2 separate regions of the Homo sapiens genome follow, and region 1 is linked to region 2. The links come from fine-mapping of genetic effects on gene expression. Tissue or cell type: prefrontal cortex. Region 2 holds a variant in brackets; the other region holds the start of a gene. All regions are shown on one strand. Distances are between the middles of the regions. Region 1 holds the start of DRC11 (dynein regulatory complex subunit 11). Region 2 has its middle 24 kb from the start of DRC11.

Region 1 (4,396 bases), 24 kb after region 2:
GCTGAATTGTGCCTGGTCTATTTCTTGGTTTTTCCAACTTATTTTCTGTATTGCACTACTTCTGTTTTTCTTTTGGTTTCCTTAGCTGTGTAATCTTCCTTCCTTTCTCATTCCATTGTTTTATATTTTCTCCCAGTTCTTATTTTATTACCTTAATGTTCTTATTAGCTTATTCTATAGCATGGAGCACAAGTAAAGATTTTTCTGTTTTGGCAGGGCGCGATGGCTCACGCCAGTAATCCCAGAATTTTGGGAGGCCGAGGCGGGCAGATCTCCTGAGGTCAGGAGTTCCAGACCAGCCTGACTAACATGGTGAAACCCTGTCTCTACTAAAAATACAAAAAATTAGCTGAGCATGGTGGTAGGCGCCTGTAATCCCAGCTACGTGGGAGGCTGAGGCAGGAGAATTGCTTGAACCCGGGAGGTGGAGGTTGCCGTGAGCCGAGATCACACACTGCACTCCAGCCTGGGTGACAGGGGGAGACTCCATCTCAAAACAAACAAACAAAAAAGATTTTTCTGCTTTTATTTATTTGGTTAGATTTTCTCCAGACTTTCTTTCACTTGTCTGGCCTATGTTATAATCCTTTCTTTTCTTCTACTTTTATGAAAGTCTTGGTTTTAGACAGTGGATATGCTGCTTCTTTCTGTCTTATTCCTATTTAACACGTGTTGCTCTTTGAAAATGTTCTGTTTGTTCAAATATAATGTGGGCGAATTCTCTTTGACTGTCTTCTCACTGTATCTGAGTTCCAGAGCTGAGATACTGCACTTTTCTCTGCTTTTCTGGAACCTGAGTACACATTTAGGATAAGGACTGCTCCCTTGAATCCACACAACTTCCAGGCTCTGTGCTCTCTTCTGAGATTTTGATAAGCTCCTTTACCACCATCCTCCCACTCTTGTCACGAGTGTGCCCTATTCCTGTGACAACATGCCCTTTGACTTTGAATCTTTGCCTCAATTCAATGTAGGGACCTAGAAAAAGGCAAGCCCTGGAGATTTCTCCTGTCCCTGCTCAGGTCCTGGGAGCGGTAGGGATTGACCTCCACTCAGGATGGTTTTATCTGGCCGGATTTCCCCAGGTGTTTCCTCGTTCGGCTCACCCTTTCATACCCCTTCTTTTCAGTGTGTGTATTCTTTGCATCAAAAAGCATTAATGAGAATTCTTGGTGTTGTGTCTACTTGGTCTCTGCCCCCTGAAGGGCTTTGGGAGGGTGGAGATGAGGCTGGACACCATTCTCCACGGCAAGCTGCTATTTCACTGAGTTTTTGAAGTTTACGGTACAAGGTTGTACTCAATTTCTCGTCTGAGAAATAATTTGCTCCATTATTTGAAGGCGGTGCGGAGGGCTGGCTTTTACTATGCTTTTGCGCATTTCATTAGTAATGGTGGGGGAGAGGTTTTGTGATCCTGATTATAATTTTTACCTGGATGTCCTCTCCACGCCTTTGACAGCATTAAACCTGGCGTTCCAATAGGAGCTGCAGGGTCTAAAATGTGCAAATAAACCTCAACAGTTACTAAAGTCGAAGAAAGAAGAGCAATGAAAGCCAACACTCATAGCGACTTACGGATAACTGTTAATAGCATCCACACTGCATTTTACATTTACAACGCACCCGCGCCTTAGTTCATACTCATTAAGTCTCCGAAGGGCGCGTCTGCCTAAGTCTTGGGTGCCCAGAATCTAAGTCTGCACTTGGCCCAGAATAGATGCCCAGTAAAGTTCTGAACGAACGACTGTTATACCCAGTTTACAGATGGGAAAACTGAAGACCACCATCATTAAGGGCCTTGCCCAAGGCCGCAGAGCTGACAGTGGATGAAAATGGGGCCAGCAGGAAAGCGGGAAGACGGCCTGGAGGACCACAGGCTAAGTGCTGGGGCCCGGAGCAGGCTCGCCAAGCGGCCGGGCCCCGCGACGGAGCGCTCGGACTCCGACCGGCTCCCACAGCTGCGCCCACCCAGGCCTCCCGCGGTGGCGCAGGCGCGGAATGCGGGGGGCGGGGGGGGGGAGGGGGCAGGCGGAAGGCAATGCGCAGGCGCGGCGTTTCCGTTGCTAGGGCCGCGTCGCGCCCACCTGAGTGGCCGAAGTGAGGTTCGCGAGTCTCTGGGTCGCGACGGGAAGGAGTGAAACACCTCTCTGCGCCTGCGCGCTCCGTGCCTGCGAAGCAAACCCGGCCTCACCTTTTCCTGCCCGAAGCAGAAGATTCTCGCAGTCCTGGTTTCTCCCTCCAGAAGACCCCCCACCCAAATCCTCTGTAGCTCCTGGTAGTGCCCTGACCCCTGCTGCCACCGTCCTTCAGAGAGCAACGGAAGAGCTTCCCGGAGGGCGAGGAAAAGAGGGAAAGTAGCCAGCAATGTCGAACGCGTAAGTGATGGGCTCCCAGCCACAGCCATGGAGTGGGCTTCCCCAAGCCAGAAGGTGGCTTGCTTTCTGCTTCTCTTATTTTCTTTTTTCTTTTCTTTTCTCCTCCCCTCTCAACTTCCCTCCTCTCCCCCACTTTTTTTCCTTTTAGGAAATTCAAATATGCCTCGGGATAGAGTATCTGCTTCTTGTGAGCAAGGAAAATCATACACTTAGATCTCCCCCTCCCCTACGCGTCCCACCACCCCATGGGGATGAGCTCCCAGTCTTCCGTATACCTGCCAAGCCCTTAGGGGCTATTGCTGAGAAGCACTATGCCATTTTGTCTGCTTTTTTTGTTAATCTTTCACGGTAACAAATACGGTGCTTTGTGGAAACACCTAGGTCCTGAAATTTAAGTCTAGAAAGATCTTGGGAAAGCATTATTGACATTTGCTTTTCACAGACTCGAGTGGCATTGGTACTGAAAGAAGTGTGTGCCTAGCACTGTGTCGTTTACACAGCACTTGCACAAAGTTACCTCATTTGGTCTTCGTAAGAATAATTTCCAACAGGTATTACAGCGCTGACCCTGTAGACACTGTTCTAACCGCTTCACAGCAACCCTGTAACGTAGGGGCTGTTAATATTGTTATTTCCATTTTACAGATGAGGGAACTTGGGGATGAAGAGGTGAAGTAGTTCACACAGCAAGTGAACAGTGCCAAGCCGGGCACTGTAGCTCCAGCCTGCACTGTTGCTATTACGTGCCCTGTATTCTAGGCAAGGAAATAAGAGCAGAGAGGTTAAAGGCTTGCCAGGGTTTGGAAATGGGGAAGATCAAGAGTTCTGTTTAAGACGTATTGAGTTGGAAGTGCCCATTGGACATCACGTGGAGATGAAATAGGCAATTAAAATATTCAGATCTTGGGTTCAGGAGCGAGACCCATGTCTGAAATATAAACTTGCTCACTGTCAGCCTGTGATGGTCTTTGTGAGACATAGAATGAATATTAATAAAGAGGTGTAAGGACTGATCCTGGGATCATCCACAGTAAGGCTGGGGGAAGAGGAGACCTGGCAAAGGAATCAAAGACATGATCCATGAGGAAGAAGCGAGTGGAAGAAATAATAGTGTTTCCAGGAGAAGTAACTTCTTTCTCCTCCATCAAGTGCTCCTGAGACAAGTTGGGGTAGAACTGAGAACTGACTGTTGATTTGGCAGTGTGGAGTTCACCAGTGACCTTGACAGGAGCTGATTCAGTGGTATGATGAGATAGAAAGACTTACTCAAGTGAATGTAGGGGGAGAGAAACTATAGATGGTGAGCATAGCTAACTCTTTAAAGGAGTTTTGCTGCAGAGGAAAGGAAATATGTTGGCAGCTAGAGGCAGAGGACATGGCTCCAAGACAGAAAACAATAGAATGTTTGTGTGTGGAAGGGAATGGCCCAGAATGATATAGGAGGAGGAGGGAGAAGTGGGTGACATCGTTGGTAGTGAGAGGACATGGGATCCAGGGGGTGCTGGCCTTAGGTAGAGGAACTCAGCACTTAACAATGGAACAGGTAGGAAGGCAGCATCAAGATGCTATTCAGTGGGTGGGTGCTCTGGAGGTGGCCTGGAACGATCATGGTAGATGGAAGATGATGGTGACTGAGGGGCAGTGGTGACAGCATCAGATGAAATGGGATTCAAAGCCTGGGAGTGTTGGGAGGAGGGAAGGCAAATGTCTGGAGGTGCAGTGAAGAGAAGGGGTCCCCTTGACCCAGCCCCACAGCCAGAGACAGAGGGCTCTGGGGGTAACAGGAGCCTCTACTGAGAGGGCTTCTGAGCAGAGACAGGCCTTCCGTAGAGCAAGAAGGCAGGGGGAGTATTTGGGGAAGAAGACAGCAAACTAGTTAAGATTGGAAGATTCAGAAGGTTTTATCTTGTGCAAAATAACTTGAAAAGAATTCCCATTGTGCAATATTTTGAGTTCCCACGGAAGTGCATATATTCAAGTGAATATTCAAGTGTTTCCCTCCCCTACCCACTCCGTTATAG
Region 2 (4,396 bases):
CAAATGCTTCCGATGGAAAGAGCCTTTGGGCTTCCTCTACCAGATCTTCTGGAGGTGGGGGTCTCAGCAGAAGCAGCTGACTGAGAACCATGATATTTCTTCTAATGGAAATGGGACATTTTTGTGGATGAGTGTTTGGGGGTCACACAAAAGGAGTTGTCTGATCAGTTTATAGATGTACAACGTGTCATATGGGTTCCTAATCAAGTCATCCTCAGGTAAGACTGGCACTAGATGGGGTAAGCGGTGTTCATGCCTCAAACCTATCAATGGCTTCACTTCACTTAGGCAAAACCAGACCTCAACCTACCCACCATCTCCTCTTCACCTTTAAAGAATAATCAGCAAAGATGTGCTCATCCATCTGTCCACTCATCTATCCATTCGTCCACTCATCCACCCACTTACTCATCCATCCACTCACCCATCCACTTATCCATTTATCCATCCATTTATGCAACCCTGCATTTGCTTACCAGATACACATTGAGTACTATCTAGGCACAAATCTAGGTGATCATAATTAAGACCAGTCCCTACCATCACAGAACTTACATTACCAAAAGGAATTAGGCAGTAAACAGATCAAAAATATATATGACACAATTTCAGGTGATGAAGTTATAAGAAAGAAAAGTTAGCAAGAGTTGATGGGGGACATGGAAGAACTATTAAGTAGAGGATAATTATCAGTCCCTGATTATTTGTAATGACTCTACCGCCATAGGTACAGAGCACACCATATCTTCTCTAAGCTGTATCAGACTATTTAAGGTTGACAGGAAGAGATATGCCCAGATTACTTTTGTTAATGAGAATCATTCCTAAGTATGTGTTGCCAAAATGCCTTTCAAACTTTATTCCAGTTTATAATCTGACCACAGCATATAACTGAGTGGGTCTCCAGATAACTCACTGACTCCTGGGTGTTATCATTATTTCCAGTCATTGCAATTTATAGATCCAAAACAATTTTTAAAATTTAATTTGCATTTCTTTTATGACTTGCCCATTCATGCCCTCTGCCAATCTCTTGTAGTGTTTTCCACACCCTCTTCTTCCAGCCTTACCCTGGTGCTCAATAAGCCACCCAAACACAGGGGCACCTGCTAGTCACCCATTGGTGTGCTGTGACAGACACCTGCCACTCCCACCAGAGAGCTTTCTGAGAGGTAGTGCCACAGGGAGCAGCCACAGCCGGTGCTGGGGCAGATGGAAGTTAAAGACTTCAGCTTCCTTGCTCTGCAGGTGGAGTAACTCTGGCTGTCTCATCATCACTCCTCAGTGGGAAGGAGCCCCAGAAGCCACAGTGGAAACCTGCCTGAACCTGCACCCTTTGTTGGTTTCTTTTTCTGTCCTGTCACATTTTTCCCACCCTGATAGCAGTGCTTTCTGGGATTGTCTGCCAAATACTCTACTTGCACTCAATTTCTTGCCTTAGAGTCTACTTTGGGAACCCAGCCTGAGAGAGTGTAATGAGGACATTTACTAGATTGGACTCAAGGCCCACAGTTCTTCAACAGCAAAGAGAGAAGTGATAAAATACAGCAGCCCAGTTCAGGCACCACTCCCATGTGCTGCCAATAAGGAGGGACCATGGACTAATGCCCGAAAGGAAATCAGAGGTTGGCTTGTGGACCAGCAGGCCAAATGCACGGGCACTCTCACCTGCTGTGTGACCCTCTTCACAGGGCTGGCCTCACCCCAGGGTCTACCTTTGTGGAGCTGTATCTAACACACAGCTGCAGACATCTGCTTACCTCAGATGCAATGCCTTTGGGCACCTGGCCTGTGAGTGATGGTGAAAGAGAGGACCATTTTCCAGGTGATCAAGGCAGTATTTGCCTTGAGGTTTCCCAGCCTTTCATATGTAGTACTTAAGCTCCTTGGATCCCATTCATGACTGTTGTGTGGACGTAACTTCAGAGGGTTTAGGAAAGTGGGGAGATGGGAAGAAGAGGCTTTCAACTCCAAAGAAGGAAGACATGATAGTGAGGCAGCACCATAAGAAGCCACATGGGGTCTGAGCGTGCTGACAGGGTGACTCCAGGATCTCAGCCTGGGAGGCAGCTGGCTCGTCTACTGCGAATGCTTCCCTAGACCACCAGAGCTGTGGCACAGACACCTGCTCTCCACAGATGAAGGGAGCACCAAATTGTGCAACGAGGCCTTTTCTTTTCATGGTTCTATGGTTTTAAAAAAGTTT[A/G]TATATTGGTGGGGAATACGCGGGTGAATACAAATGTCAGGTAATTCCACACCCACCACAGCTCTCCCTGGATTTTCTGACAGTTGTGTCTCTCTTCTAAAACTTCCCATTGTCTCTTTCAGCTAGTATGCCCAGATCCGTGTCATATTCAGAACCTGTGTAGAGAACTAGAGAAAGGCAAACCCAATTTTACACAGTCTATTCTCTGAATTACATACGTGGAAGATTTGGAGATGTTACCATGTCTCAGAACCTATTCAGCTCTGACTTTCTGATTGTTTTACTGTTGCTTGAAAATCTGATATAAATATGTTCATGTTGCCAGTAATCTTCAAAATTAACTGTATCATGGCTGTATTAGGGCTGACACTACAATTTATTTCACTGTTCTCCTAATATTGAATGCCACTTCTTTACTGAAAATTAATTTGTGCAGATAAACTTTTTCTCTCTTGGGAGAAATTCTCAGAAGTAAGTAGAGGTCATAACATTCTAAATCATTTCCCTTGGGGTGAGCAGTAGAGGGCAGTTATGTCCTCTGATTACTCCTGGGAGTTAACATTTTCTCACTTATTTGTACTGATTCTTGTGAAGATGTTTACTCATAATCTGCCTATTCACATGCTGACTACTTCGTGTGTTTCTTATCAATCTGTGTGGCTCCTGATGTAATATGAATATTTTCTCTGGGCATTCTAATGTAACCTTTTCCTAGTTAAGCTATGAGTGCTAAGCCTGCCTGACTTTAGATCCTGAGAGCCATCTATGGATCCATCTCTATGCTGTGCACAACAGCAGAGCATCCTATGAAGTCCTGAAGCAAATCAAATTCATCATTTTTTGAATGAACTCAAATGTCTTTGTACACGCAACAGAGAAAGCTGGGAGACAGACCTCCTGGTACTGCTGTCTGTTCCACTGTCTTCTTAGATGAACATTTTGGAGCTTTCTAGAAAATTTCATTATTGATTTATAGCCCAGTTTTTATTTACTAATTATATCTTCTCTTACAGAAAAAAAATCATGATCTACCCAAGTTTAACTTGTAGGTTTAATAGTCAGTGTTGATGATCAGTAATTATTCTATATAATAGAAGTCCTACATTGAGAAGATGCTATTACAAAAAATGAAAGCTAAAAAGTTTTGAGAAATAATAGATGTCAATATATATATGAAATTTGGTATGAAACAGCATATAAAACAATAATTCCACTTTGTTTAGAAATGATTAGCAGTTTAAACTTGACATGTGACTATTTCCCCTTCATAGAGCCTTGAGTATTTCCTCAGTGAACAATATATTAGAACATATATGGTATTTTACCAAGTACATGTTTACTACCTAGGAAAAGCAACGGATTGAGAGGCCCAGGGTTTGGCATTTGAAATCTGACAAAAAGCAGAGAGAGAAGGATTGAACAGTGCTGCGCTGGGAAGCAGGACAGGGCCGGCAGACCCACAGAGAGAGTGAGGTCACGGGGGAGGCTGGCTCTCTCTGTTCCTGGCAGTTTTTCTGGAACAATGGCCCTTATGAGGTCTAGCTGATCTTGGATTCTGAATATGTCCTTGAGTCTTCTTAACATATCCTCTTTTTGTGTAAGTTAGTTGCATGGATTTCTTTTCCTTTTGCCAAGTGATTCCAGTGGTAATGCACTTTGCAAAGCTCTCTCAAATTCTCTCTTGTTCTGAGAGGTTCTAGACTGTAAAAGTCTTGAGGTCAGTCCTGGCTCTGCTACACTAGCTGTGTGACCTTGAGAAAGTTATATGACTTTGTTTTCATGTTTATACAATAATAAAGCTTGCCTCACTACTATAAAGTCTAAAGGAGAGATAGATATAGATATATAGATATATAGATACAGACATAGATATGAAAGGTGCTTTATAAACAAGAAAATGCTACTGATATGGTTTGGCTGTGTTTCCCCACCCAAATCCCATCTCGAATTGTAATCCCCCAGTGTTGAGGGAGGGACCTGGTGGGAGGTAAATGGATCACGGGGCAGTTTCCCCACATGCTGTTATGATAGTGAGTTCTCATGAGATTTGATGGTTTAAAAGTGGCAGTTTCCCCTGCGCTCTGTCTCTCCTGCCACCTTGTGAAGAAGGTGCCTGCTTCTCCTTCACCTTCCGCCATGATTGTAAGTTTCCTGAGGCCTCCCCAGCCATACAGAACTGTGAGTCAATTA

Evidence for each region. PIP is the estimated chance that this variant, and not a neighbour inherited with it, causes the effect. A credible set is the group of variants that fine-mapping cannot tell apart.
Region 1: DRC11 starts here. The variant in region 2 is the best candidate, but not a certain one, in a credible set for the expression of DRC11 in prefrontal cortex (CommonMind, PIP 0.84).

The regions. Positions count from the first base shown.
Region 1 is chr2:236,505,236-236,509,631 of GRCh38, reverse strand. It overlaps DRC11 (dynein regulatory complex subunit 11), which reads left to right and starts at 2,156. Exons shown (of 19, transcript NM_024726.5): 1 at 2,156-2,375. The coding sequence starts at 2,365. RefSeq lists a silencer at 1,981-2,030.
Region 2 is chr2:236,529,054-236,533,449 of GRCh38, reverse strand. No RefSeq gene overlaps it. Among named protein-coding and RNA genes, the nearest start is that of DRC11, 24 kb to the right of the region's middle. The variant A/G (reference allele first, on the strand shown) is at 2,207.